Linked DNA regions of Homo sapiens. The protein of the gene in region 1 purifies or fractionates together with the protein of each later gene. This does not show direct contact. Each region holds a gene or a part of one and is shown in the gene's direction. Other genes may lie near its edges. The genes, in order: MOGAT3, SERPINB7 and SERPINB12.

Region 1 (4,334 bases):
TGGCGTGGGAGGGCCCCTGCAGGCGCTGGAGGCAAAACCCGGACAACTGAGCTTGCCGATTCGGAATCAGAAGAGATTGGTTAAGTCAGCTCTGGAACTCGGGTGAGGACCCGAGCGTGACCCGGTGGGGACGCCCCAGGGCTGCCGGGCCGGGGAGGAGGAGAGTGGCGCCACCCGCGGACCCCGGGGCCAGGAGTCAGCCGCGCCATGCTCTCCTGCGGCCTCCCTAGTGCCTGTCTTCTCCAGGGAGAATGAGCTCTTCCAGCAGTTCCCGAACCCGCAGAGCTCGTGGGTGCAGAGGACGCAGGAGGCTCTGCGTCCGCTGCTAAGCGTGGCCCTGCAGCTGTTCCTGGGCCGCCGGGGCCTCCCGCTGCCCTTCCGCGCGCCCATCCGCACCGTAGGTGAGCCCCGGCCTCCGCCCCGCGATCCTGGCCCAGGGCCCGCTCCCTCCCCGTCCCGGGTTGGGGCCACCCAGACTGGCCTTTGGCCACCGCGCCAGCCCTGAACTCTGTTCCCGCCTATCCCCAAGGAGGAAAAGAGGAGGAGAACCGGGGATCCCAGCCCAGATCGCCTCCCGTCCCGCCCGCAGTGGGGTCGGCGATTCCCGTGCAGCAGAGCCCCCCGCCCAGTCCGGCCCAGGTGGACACGCTGCAAGCGCGCTACGTGGGGCGACTCACGCAGCTCTTCGAGGAGCACCAGGCGCGCTATGGTGTCCCCGCCGACAGACACCTGGTCCTCACGGAGGCGCGCCCCACCGCCTGGCCTCGCCTGTCCGCTGGGTGACTGCAGGTGGGGAAGTGAAATTAAAGACTGGCGGCAGGGCACGGTGGCTCACGCCTGTGATTCCAGCACTTTGGGAGGCCGAGGCGGGTGGATCACTTGAGGTCAGGAGTTCGAGACCAGCCTGGCCATCATGGTGAAACCCCATCTCTATTAAAAATCCAAAAAAAAAAAAAAAAAAAATTAGCCAGACGTGGTGGCGCGCCTGTAATCCTAGCTACTCGGGAGGCTGAGGCAGGAGAATCGTTTGAACCCGGGAGGCGGAGGTTGCAGTGAGCCGAGATCGTGCCACTGCTCTCCAGCCTGGGTGACCGAGACGTGTGAAAAAAAAAGAAAAAAAAGAAAAGAAAAGAAAAAGAAAAAAATTAAAGTGGGAAACAGACCTGCAGCCTGTGTGTGTTTGTGCATGGCGGGGGAGGTCCAGGCAGGGGTGGTGACCTTGACATTCCTGGAGATGCCCCGGACCAGGCCCTGCCCCCACCCCGACTGGAGGTCAAATAGTCTCAGCAGGGCTTCTGGCCCCTTCCAGCACCTGGGACCCAGTGGGTGGGGCTAGCCAGATCACTCTTGTCCACTCCAACATCAATTCCTGAGGCACTCGGGTGTCACCTCTCCCTTGCACACCCCTTACGCCTCCCAGCCCCACCCAGCAGCCAGCCCAGACTGGTGACTGACAGGAAGTTCAAAGATCAGGCTGAGAAAAAACCCAGAGACATCTGGGGCTCTGGATCCAAAGATCTCCCCACTCACACACCTACGGACACACGCTACTCTGGGAGGTGATTTGCGACTTAGCCAGGCCCCCAAAGCTGGGCTCCTGTAGGGAGAAAGTCTGCCCAGGTCCACATCCAAGCCTTCATCGTTTGTCCTCCGGGTTCTGGGATCCTGCTGGAAGAGGGGAGCTTCTGCAATGGGAGTTGCCACAACCCTGCAGCCCCCAACCACTTCCAAAACCTTGCAGAAGCAGCATCTAGAAGCAGTGGGCGCCTACCAATATGTGCTCACTTTCCTCTTCATGGGTGAGAGCTGGGGAGGCGTGGGTGCCTGGGGTCTGCCAGGGGAGTAGGGCTTGGAGGGAGAGTGGCTGGGCTGCTGGCTTGCATGCCTGAGGACAGTGACCAGGTGACTGGTCTGGGAGAGGGCCAGAGGAGAGAGCTGGTTGTTCTGAAGGGGAGGAAGGGAAGGGAGCAGCTGGAGGGAATGATGGAGTTTCAGAAGTGAACTCTTTTCTTTCTCTCCCTTCCCCCAGGCCCTTTCTTCTCCCTTCTTGTCTTTGTCCTCCTCTTCACGTCACTCTGGCCCTTCTCTGTTTTTTACTTGGTGTGGCTCTATGTGGACTGGGACACACCCAACCAAGGTGAGCTCCGGATGGGGGCCCAGGTAGCCAGAGATGGTGGGGACATGGGGGGTGAGGGGAGGTGACTCCGGGGGTTCGTCCACCAGTATCTCATTGTCCGCAGGTGGAAGGCGTTCGGAGTGGATAAGGAACCGGGCAATTTGGAGACAACTAAGGGATTATTATCCTGTCAAGGTGATGGGTCACCCTGCAGAAAAACTGCTTCCTACCTCTCCCCATCTCCCTCCCACACCTAGGAGCCCTTCCTTGTGCTGGGGCCTGAGCTCCCCGCTGCCTAAGCTCAGGCAGTGGGACAGGGAATGGATTTTTTTTTTTTTTTAGACTGAGTCTCCTGTCACCGAGGCTGGAGTGCAGTGGTGCAATCTCAGCTCATTGCAACCTCCGCCTCCTAGGTTCAAGCTATTCTCATGCCTCAGCCTCCCTAGTAGCTGGGATTATAGGTGCCCGCCACCATGCCTGGCTAATTTTTGTAGTTTAGTAGAGACAGGGTTTCAACATGTTGGCCAGGCTGGTCTCAAACTCCTGGCCTCAAGTGATCCAGCCACCTCGGCCTCCCAAAGTGCTGGGATTACAGCCTTGAGCCACCGCGCCCGGCCTGGGAGTGGATGATGTTCAAGAGCGGGGCCTTGGTGGGGCACCATGGCTCATGCCTGTAATCCAAGCACTTTGGGAGGCCGAGGTGGGAGGATTGCTTGAGCCCAGGAGTTGGAGGCTGTAGTGAGCCATGATTGCGCCACTGTACTCCAGCCTGAGCAACAGAGTGAGACCGTCTCTAAAAAAAAAAAAAAAAAAAGGCGGTTGTGGTGGCTCAAGCCTTTAATCCCAGCACTTTGGGAGGCTGAGGTGGGTGGATCACCTAAGGTCAGGAGTTCGAGACCAGCCTGACCAACATGGAGAAACCCCATCTCTACTAAAAATACCAAACAAATTAGCCGGACATGGTGGCACATGCCTGTAATCCCAGCTACTCTGGAGGCTGAGGCAGGAGAATTGCTTGAACCAGGGAGGCGGAGGTTGTGGTGAGCTGAGATGATGCCATTGCACTCCAGCCTAGGCAACAGGAGCAAAACTCTGCCTCAAAAAAAGAAAAGAAAAAAAGAGAGAGTGGGTGAGGTGGCTTACGCCTGTAATCCCAGCACTGTGGGAGGCCAAGGCAGGCAGATCACGAGGTCAGGAGTTCAAGACCAACCTGGCCAATATGGTGAAACTGCGTCTCTACTAAAAATACAAAAATTAGCTGGGCATAGTTTCGCATGCCTGTAATCCCAGCTACTCGGGAGGCTGAGGCAGGAGGATAGCTTGAACCGGGACCAAGAGGCGGAGGTTGCAGTGAGCCGAGATCGTGCCACTGCACTTCAGCCTGGGCTACAGAGCAAGACTCCATCTCAAAAAAAAAAAAAAAAAAAACCTGGGCCCTTAACCCTATCCTAAGAACCTTTAACTCGGAACTCTGCTGGGGTGGCCCTTGACCCTATCCTAAGAACCTTTAACTCGGAACTCTGTTGGGGTGGAGGGCCCCTCTTTTCAGCCGGTGTCTTGCCTTCCATCCTCCCTTCATCCTGCTCAACACCCCGAAGCTGGTGAAAACAGCAGAGCTGCCCCCGGATCGGAACTACGTGCTGGGCGCCCACCCTCATGGGATCATGTGTACAGGCTTCCTCTGTAATTTCTCCACCGAGAGCAATGGCTTCTCCCAGCTCTTCCCGGGGCTCCGGCCCTGGTTAGCCGTGCTGGCTGGCCTCTTCTACCTCCCGGTCTATCGCGACTACATCATGTCCTTTGGTGAGCCGAATGGGAGGAGGAGAACGGGAGGAGACTCCTGACCAGATGTTCCCCAGCCCCTCTGGGACCACCCCCCCCCATAATAAGTCCCCCACCCAGGACAGGGGCCAGCCTGAGCACTGCCCAGACTTGCAGTGAGCATTTGGGTAGGTTCCCCGCCTTGGAGATGGGGGTAGGGGGCTTGGAACTAAAGGCTGGGTGAGGGGCGGGGGTGCCGTGGAGGCAGATGGGAACTACTTTCCACCTCCTCCTGCCCACAGGACTCTGTCCGGTGAGCCGCCAGAGCCTGGACTTCATCCTGTCCCAGCCCCAGCTCGGGCAGGCCGTGGTCATCATGGTGGGGGGTGCGCACGAGGCCCTGTATTCAGTCCCCGGGGAGCACTGCCTTACGCTCCAGAAGCGCAAAGGCTTCGTG
Region 2 (3,647 bases), on another chromosome or scaffold:
TGGAAAGAATGGGTTAAAAATGATGTGTTAAACCTCAAAAATTTAACATTGTATTGAATTACAGATGGTTTAGAAAGCAAAGGCTGTAGTGCCTCAAATAGACTGTCTAATATTGTAATATTTACTTTTGCTCTATTTCAGTTCAGAAATCTGGGGTGATTTGAGAAATAGTGAGCCCCATGAATGTGTCTGCTTGGGGGTTGGAAACAGGCCACTCACAGGCCACTGAGGACAGAAATGTCCACCAACGAGAAGAGATAGTTTTAGGGTATTAGTGACAAGGATACTGGGCCAAGGGAACTTTTCCCTTTTTGTTAGAGTTATTTGATGATTACCTCCAAGGCTGAAAAAAAATGAAGCTTTAAATTATAAAAAATAAATAAATCTAAAAATATAATATTCCTAGAAAATGTACCGGGAACTAATTTCATTTTCTCATTGTCCTCTAGGCTGCACTCCATTTTGCAATGGCCTCCCTTGCTGCAGCAAATGCAGAGTTTTGCTTCAACCTGTTCAGAGAGATGGATGACAATCAAGGAAATGGAAATGTGTTCTTTTCCTCTCTGAGCCTCTTCGCTGCCCTGGCCCTGGTCCGCTTGGGCGCTCAAGATGACTCCCTCTCTCAGATTGATAAGGTCAGTCTCAGCTTTTGCAGTTAATCACTGGGACAAATTGTTTTTCCCACGAGAACATTTCGTTGCAATGGTCCCCATGTTAATGGAGGTCATCATGAGGCACAAGGTGTCACATCTTCACACATCTCCACGAGGCCCTCTTTGGGTGTGAAGAAAGCACACAGCTTGCAGTACTTGTTTTTGAGCCAAGAGGCAGCAGAAATATTCCAAGTACTGCAGCTTTGATGTTTTCCCTCAGTGCAGTGGTTCTCAAAGTGTGTTTCCCAGACCAGGATCATCAGCACCGCCTGGAGAACTTGTTAGAAATGCAAATGCTGGCCGGGCGCGGTGGCTCATGCCTGTAATCCCAGCACTTTGGGAGGCCGAGGCGGGCGGATCACGAGGTCAGGAGATCGAGACCATCCTGGCTAACACGGTGAAACCCCGTCTCTACTAAAAATACAAAAAATTAGCCGGGCATGGTGGCGGGCGCCTGTAGTCCCAGCTACTCGGGAGGCTGAGGCAGGAGAATGGCATGAACCCGGGAGGTGGAGTTTGCAGTGAGCCGAGATAGCGCTACTGCAGTCCAGCCTGGGCGACAGAGCGAGACTCCGTCTCAGAAAACAAACGATCAAACAAAACAAAAAGAAAATAAAGAAAGAAAGAAAGAGAGAGAGAGAGAGAGAGAGAGAGAGAGAGAGAGAGAGAGAGAGAGAAAGAAAGAAAGAAAGAAAGAAAGAAAGAAAGAAAGAAAGAAAGAAAGAAAGAAAGAAAGAAATGCAAATGCTTGGGCTCTACCCCAGAAGTACTGAATCAGAAACTATGGGTGTTGGACCCAGCACTCTGGGTTTTAATGAGCTCTCCAGGTGCACATGAAGGGTTGAAAACCACTGCCTGAGTAGATACAGTTGAGATAGGAGAGTTAGAAGGAGATTCCAATGACATCCCAGTTTAAGCACTGGTTACCGGGGCACAAAAACATCATAGTACATTCCAGATAATAGCAGCCTACCTGAATAGTCCTCACATTGTCATCATCACCACCTTCACCGCCACCTTCAGGGAGTGCTTATTAACACACCCGTGCACACAGCTCTGGGAGCACTTTATAGGGAAGTGGAATGGTCGTTTCCCTCCCTTCTCAGAAAATTGCCACTGAAACTCAGTAGCTCAACAGCAGGTGAGATGCCAGGTCCAGGCTGCATGCAGAGGCCTTGATGTCGTCCCTTTCTGCCCCCACCTCCCTGTGCCCACCTCTTGCCCCACTATTCCTCCCATTATTTTAGTTCTGAAGGGCTTGCCAGAGGAATCTGGTGCCTGTTGTAACCTGTCATACCTCAGGTCATATGGAAAACCATTTATGGGATAATTTAAGCTAGAATAATTCCTTCCTTTATCTGAATAGCTCAGTAAATATTAATTGCTAGAGAACAACTACAGAGTCTTAGACTGCTGTTTTTTTCAAGCGCTAGAGCGGTTTACAACCTAGTACATAGGATACAACACTTTAATGAGATGATAGTAACAACTATCTGCTGAGAACTTAATCAGTGTTCAGGATCTGGGATAAGCCCTAAGAATATGATCTTATTTGATATTCACATTGACACACTGAAGTGGGAATATTACCCTGATTTTATGGAGGGGTGACCATACTGTGTGCTGGTAGATGGCGGACCTGAGATTCAAACTCAGGATGATCTTCTACAACTGGTTTTCTCAACTTTGGCACTATTGACATTTTTGGCTGGATAAATCTTTGTTGTGAGGGGCTGTCCTATGCATCATTTAGCAGCATTCCTGGCCTCTCATCAACAACTACCCGCAGCATACCCCTCCCCCATCATGACAACCAAAAACATTTCCAGATATTTCCAAAGAATGCCCTCAAAAGCAAAATCAGTCTCCAGTTGAGAACTGCTCTGAAGCCACCAAACTGAAATATAGCTCAAAGTACATCACTGTGAAGCTTCAGTATTTTAAAGTGGGTATTTTGATAAATAAATATAAAGCCCTTGAAAAACATTCAACAAATAAAAATTTATTCATTCATAAAAATGCATAATGTTTCAGAACCAAGTGAGATGATTTGGTATCATGGAAACATAGCCTTGGTCTGGGAGTTAGAAGATTGGGTCGAAGATCTGACCTTGGGAAAATCATGTCATCTCTGTGGGCACTAGTGTCCTCACCTGTGCACGGAGGATGCTGATTTGATGATAAAACAAATAAAGAAAAAAACCTTACAGTTGTCACTGTTCAATGTGTTAGACAATGATGTGCAGGCACCATGCCTATGACTAAAGCTTGATTTTAATGCAACAGAAGACACACGGCTCTTACCTACTGTGTGCTTTCATGTCAGGAGCAATCTTTCAGCTCCTGTCTGGTACACCTTCTGAAGTCTCCTTGCCCTGCACCTCATGCCTGGTGGGCCAGGGTCAACAGCTCATGAGTCATGGTGAACTGAGAGAGCTGCTGTTCTGCTGGAGTTTGCTCTGTACTCTTTACTGCCTCATCAATTACTCTCATGTGTGACTTTTTATAACTCTTACTATTATGATCTTGCATGAAGAAACATGTAAGAGGAGAAAAGGCAACTACAGACACAAAAACATTCATCTAATTTATCTGCACACATTTTTAATCCTCTGTAAATGTCTTCTAGGAAATTAATTTTCAGCTTCTCCCCTGCTTCAGTTGGTTTCTCATTACTACACTCGACCCTTGTCACCATAAATCACACATTTCTATTTTAAATGAATCCCGGCTCAATTTATGGCTTCCATCTGTGTGTCTCTTTTAAGCATTCCCATGGATCTGTGTTTCTTTTTCTTTTTGATGCTCAAAGTGTCATAGCTTCGCCAGTAGATATCTCTTTAACCCAATCTTTTTAAACAATCCTTCCCAATAACTTTAAAATATTTTTGCTTTCTGACAAGACGTTCTGGGCTTGTCTTGAGTTATCTTAGCTCCAAAAGGAGCTCAGCTATTCCTCATGAAACTCTGGCTCATTTACTCTATTAAATATAT
Region 3 (3,608 bases), on another chromosome or scaffold:
TGCAAGAACTTAATCATATTATCTCTCTTTTATGGAAGAGGAAATTTAACTTCAGAAAATGAGGGCTTGGCCACAGAACTCAACTAATCGACTGAGCTTTGCTGTGCTTTGAACACTTGTCTCTCAAACACCAGAGCACACTGGAACCTGAGTTGTCCCCTAACTTCTTCTAAAGAGGAAAGATATTTGCTTGAAGTTTTAAATGAAATCAGACTATTCTCTAGCTTAGGGAAAGGTCTTGAAGGTTGTCACTGCCCACTGAAAGGGACTCAGGCACCTTGAAGTAATTGGGGCATTCTTTGTGGTCCCATAATCTGATGCTAAATATTATTTCCTTCCTCTTGTAGCTTGAAAGGAAAATCACCTATGAAAAAATGGTGGCCTGGAGCAGCTCAGAAAACATGTCAGAAGAATCGGTGGTCCTGTCCTTCCCCCGGTTCACCCTGGAAGACAGCTATGATCTCAATTCCATTTTACAAGACATGGGCATTACGGATATCTTTGATGAAACGAGGGCTGATCTTACTGGAATCTCTCCAAGTCCCAATTTGTACTTGTCAAAAATTATCCACAAAACCTTTGTGGAGGTGGATGAAAACGGTACCCAGGCAGCTGCAGCCACTGGGGCTGTTGTCTCGGAAAGGTCACTACGATCTTGGGTGGAGTTTAATGCCAACCACCCTTTTCTCTTTTTCATTAGACACAACAAAACCCAAACCATTCTCTTTTATGGCAGGGTCTGCTCTCCTTAAAAGGGGAGCAGTGTCTAGTACTTTGGAGCTGGAGGAAAATATCAATACAATCTTCCCCTGGCATAAGATGGGCATTTGAGTTTTTGGTAATATCTAAAGCATCTCCTTCATCCTCCAGCCATCGGCTTGTGCTTATCTTGATCTTTCTGTCACCCTGTAGCTTATTTTCATCTGAGTCTGTTAGTATTGAAGGGCTGTTGTTCTCTACCCTAAACTTTCAAGCATATAAATTCACCCTCTGTGACCTGAAGGTCAACACAATTCAGAACAGTACCTACCTCCTTTTGAAGGAATCCTAAAAGTTCAGGTCATTAGACCATTTCTAAGAGATGGCAAACTCAGAAGCCACTTTAACATGGGCAGCAAGAGAACATGTTTGACTGGAACGTGTTTGGAAACTCAGCTCTGTTTCTGGGGTAGTTTGACCGGAACGTGTTTGGAAACTCAGCTCTGTTTCTGGGATAGTTATGATTGTGGTCATCACTGGGCGAGATGCCCTGTTTCTTCCTTTGACAGCTACTGCATGGAAGATGTCCTGTGAGGTCTTTTCACCTAGGACAAGGCAGGGCTTGGGCGTATTTAAGTGATAGCTCAAAGATGTGTGACTGCCCCAACCAGCACTCATTTTGCACAGAGCAGGGGAATGATATTTGTCTTGTGATTTTGACACTGACCCAGGAAAGTGGCTAGTGGATTTAGAGGAGGTTTATCTCAGTTTTCCTTATTGAGTCCCCCAACATTATCATCAAACACTTCCCTCTGTCTCTCCTCCCCCTAGCTCCAAGAATTCCCACCTGTGGCTAGCTCCTTTTATGCACCCAGCACAGGCAGGTGTCAAGAGAAGTGCTGCTGGCATTGTGGACGGCTGGCCTCCGTATGCCCCTCTCTCTGCCTTCTGGCCACGTGGAGGCTGGCCTCTGTGTGCCCCTCTCTCTGCCTTCTGGCCACGTGGAGGCTGGCCTCCGTGTGCCCCTCTCTCTGCCTTCTGGCCACGTGGACTTTTGTGTCTTCCGAGAGGTCTCATGCCAGACCACATGGTGACAACAGGCTTGAGCCTGGGCATGGTGTCCATAGCAATGCTTGTTGGCTGGGCATGATGGCTCATGCCTGCAATCCCAGCACTTCTTGGGAGGCCGAGTCAGGTGGATCACTTGAGTCCAGGAGTTCGAGACCAGCCTGGGCAACATATTGAGACCCTGACTCTACAAAAAATACAGAAATTAGCCGGGCGTGGTGGTGTGCACCTATAGTCCCAGCTACTCGGGAGGCTGAGGTGGGAAGATCACTTGAACCCAGGGGATGGAGGCTGCAGTAAGCTGAGATGGCGCCACTGCACTCCAGCCTGGGTGACAGAGCGAAACCCTGTCTCAAAAAACAAACAAACAAAAAACCCAAAAAGCCAAAACAAAACCTGAAACCCTTGTCAAGAAGGCCATTGGGCTCATCTCAAGCTCTAGTCTACTGAAGGCCTGACCTCTGAGTGTTCCTACTCGCGGACTCAGGGCCTCTGTTCTCTGGTGTGGTAATCTGAGTTCCTAATTTCTATCTTAGCTGAATGTTCTGCCATGACCACTGACACGTCCAACTCACATCTCTTTGGAGTCAGTCTCTTTCCTATCGAGGTGGGTTTCAGGTCTTGCTTGCGGCTCAGTTTCCTTGGCCCACCTTGTGGCTGTCCTCCTCCCAGCTGCCACCAGTCGTTCAGTGTGGCCACGCAGTTTTTTTGCAGAAGGCAGGTGAACCACACCTGCTCCCATGCTAGCCTCCTCTTCCTTTTCTCACCTACCCCAGTGATTTCTTTGTGCTCTGAGAGACAAGTTCCATGTTCTCCATACAACCTTCTCATTGTTGAAGCTCACTTACGACCTAAAACAATTTGACGTTGGTAACGTGAGGCAGTTTGAGGCAGTGCCCTATCCAGAATGCATGTCCCATGGGTCAAATTAATTTCAGATAACCAAAAACTTCATGTCCCCTGTGGTTCCTTTTGGGGTTGACGTTTTGGGGGCTGTTTCCATGTCTGACTTGGCACCACTGCCCGACACGTAGCTGGAAACCATGACCTATATATAGGCCTGCACTGCCCGGCATTTCTTTTGTTCTTATTCTTTTACTTGGTAAACACATTTTTTTTTCATTTACATCGGGATTTCTCAGATTTTGAAGCATGAGAGGGAGAATGTATCTATTTACAATAATGAGGAAAATTAAGAATCTTAAATCTTTATGTAAATCAGTAAACATTCTTTACTAACCTTTGATTTATTAAGAAGTTTCTTCTGAATGAATAAAGCACTTTTGTTATTAGTTAAAATATATACGATGTGTTGCCAACTGATTTTTTTAGGGATATAAATTTAACTTCAAACTGTTTCATCCAAAAATATAAAAATACATAATCTATGAAACTAACAATTCATCTCAGTTACACAGGAAAAATACATCTTGCCCCAGTAATAGTTTCTCCCAGCTTTCCATCATAATTACATATGAAGGCATATAAAAAAGATGAAAACTGACAATGCTAAAACCAGAGTGATAGCCAGCTGATCATCAGAATATAGAAGACATTTCTGCCGACTACAGGTTTTTCTTTTTTTTTTGTTTGAGATGTAGTCTTGCACTGTTGCCCAGGCTGGAGTGCAGTGGTGCAATCTTGGCTTACTGCAACCTCTGCCTCCTGGGTTCAAGTGATTCTTAAGCCTCAGCCTGCTGAGTAGCGGGATTACAGGCGCCCGCCACCACGCCCAGCTAATTTTTGTATTTTTAGTAGAGAGGGGGTTTCACCATGTTGGCCAGGCTGGTCCTGAACTCCTGACTTCAAGTGATCCACCTGCCTTGGCCTCCCAAAGTGCT

Evidence for each region.
Region 2: the proteins of MOGAT3 (region 1) and SERPINB7 purify together in Homo sapiens (affinity purification with mass spectrometry; one large-scale study listed by BioGRID and IntAct). This does not show direct contact.
Region 3: the proteins of MOGAT3 (region 1) and SERPINB12 purify together in Homo sapiens (affinity purification with mass spectrometry; one large-scale study listed by BioGRID and IntAct). This does not show direct contact.

The regions. Positions count from the first base shown.
Region 1 is NC_000007.14:101,198,211-101,202,544, reverse strand, and holds the start of MOGAT3 (2-acylglycerol O-acyltransferase 3), read left to right. Parts: upstream 1-1,508; 5' UTR 1,509-1,690; coding exon 1,691-1,799; intron 1,800-2,029; coding exon 2,030-2,137; intron 2,138-2,240; coding exon 2,241-2,311; intron 2,312-3,714; coding exon 3,715-3,919; intron 3,920-4,179; coding exon 4,180-4,334. UniProt on the Homo sapiens protein: Catalyzes the formation of diacylglycerol from 2-monoacylglycerol and fatty acyl-CoA. Also able to catalyze the terminal step in triacylglycerol synthesis by using diacylglycerol and fatty acyl-CoA as substrates.
Region 2 is NC_000018.10:63,781,906-63,785,552, forward strand, and holds part of SERPINB7 (serpin B7), read left to right. Parts: intron 1-449; 5' UTR 450-467; coding exon 468-635; intron 636-3,647. UniProt on the Homo sapiens protein: Might function as an inhibitor of Lys-specific proteases. Might influence the maturation of megakaryocytes via its action as a serpin.
Region 3 is NC_000018.10:63,566,260-63,569,867, forward strand, and holds the end of SERPINB12 (serpin B12), read left to right. Parts: intron 1-347; coding exon 348-752; 3' UTR 753-3,070; downstream 3,071-3,608. UniProt on the Homo sapiens protein: Inhibits trypsin and plasmin, but not thrombin, coagulation factor Xa, or urokinase-type plasminogen activator. May play a role in cell differentiation.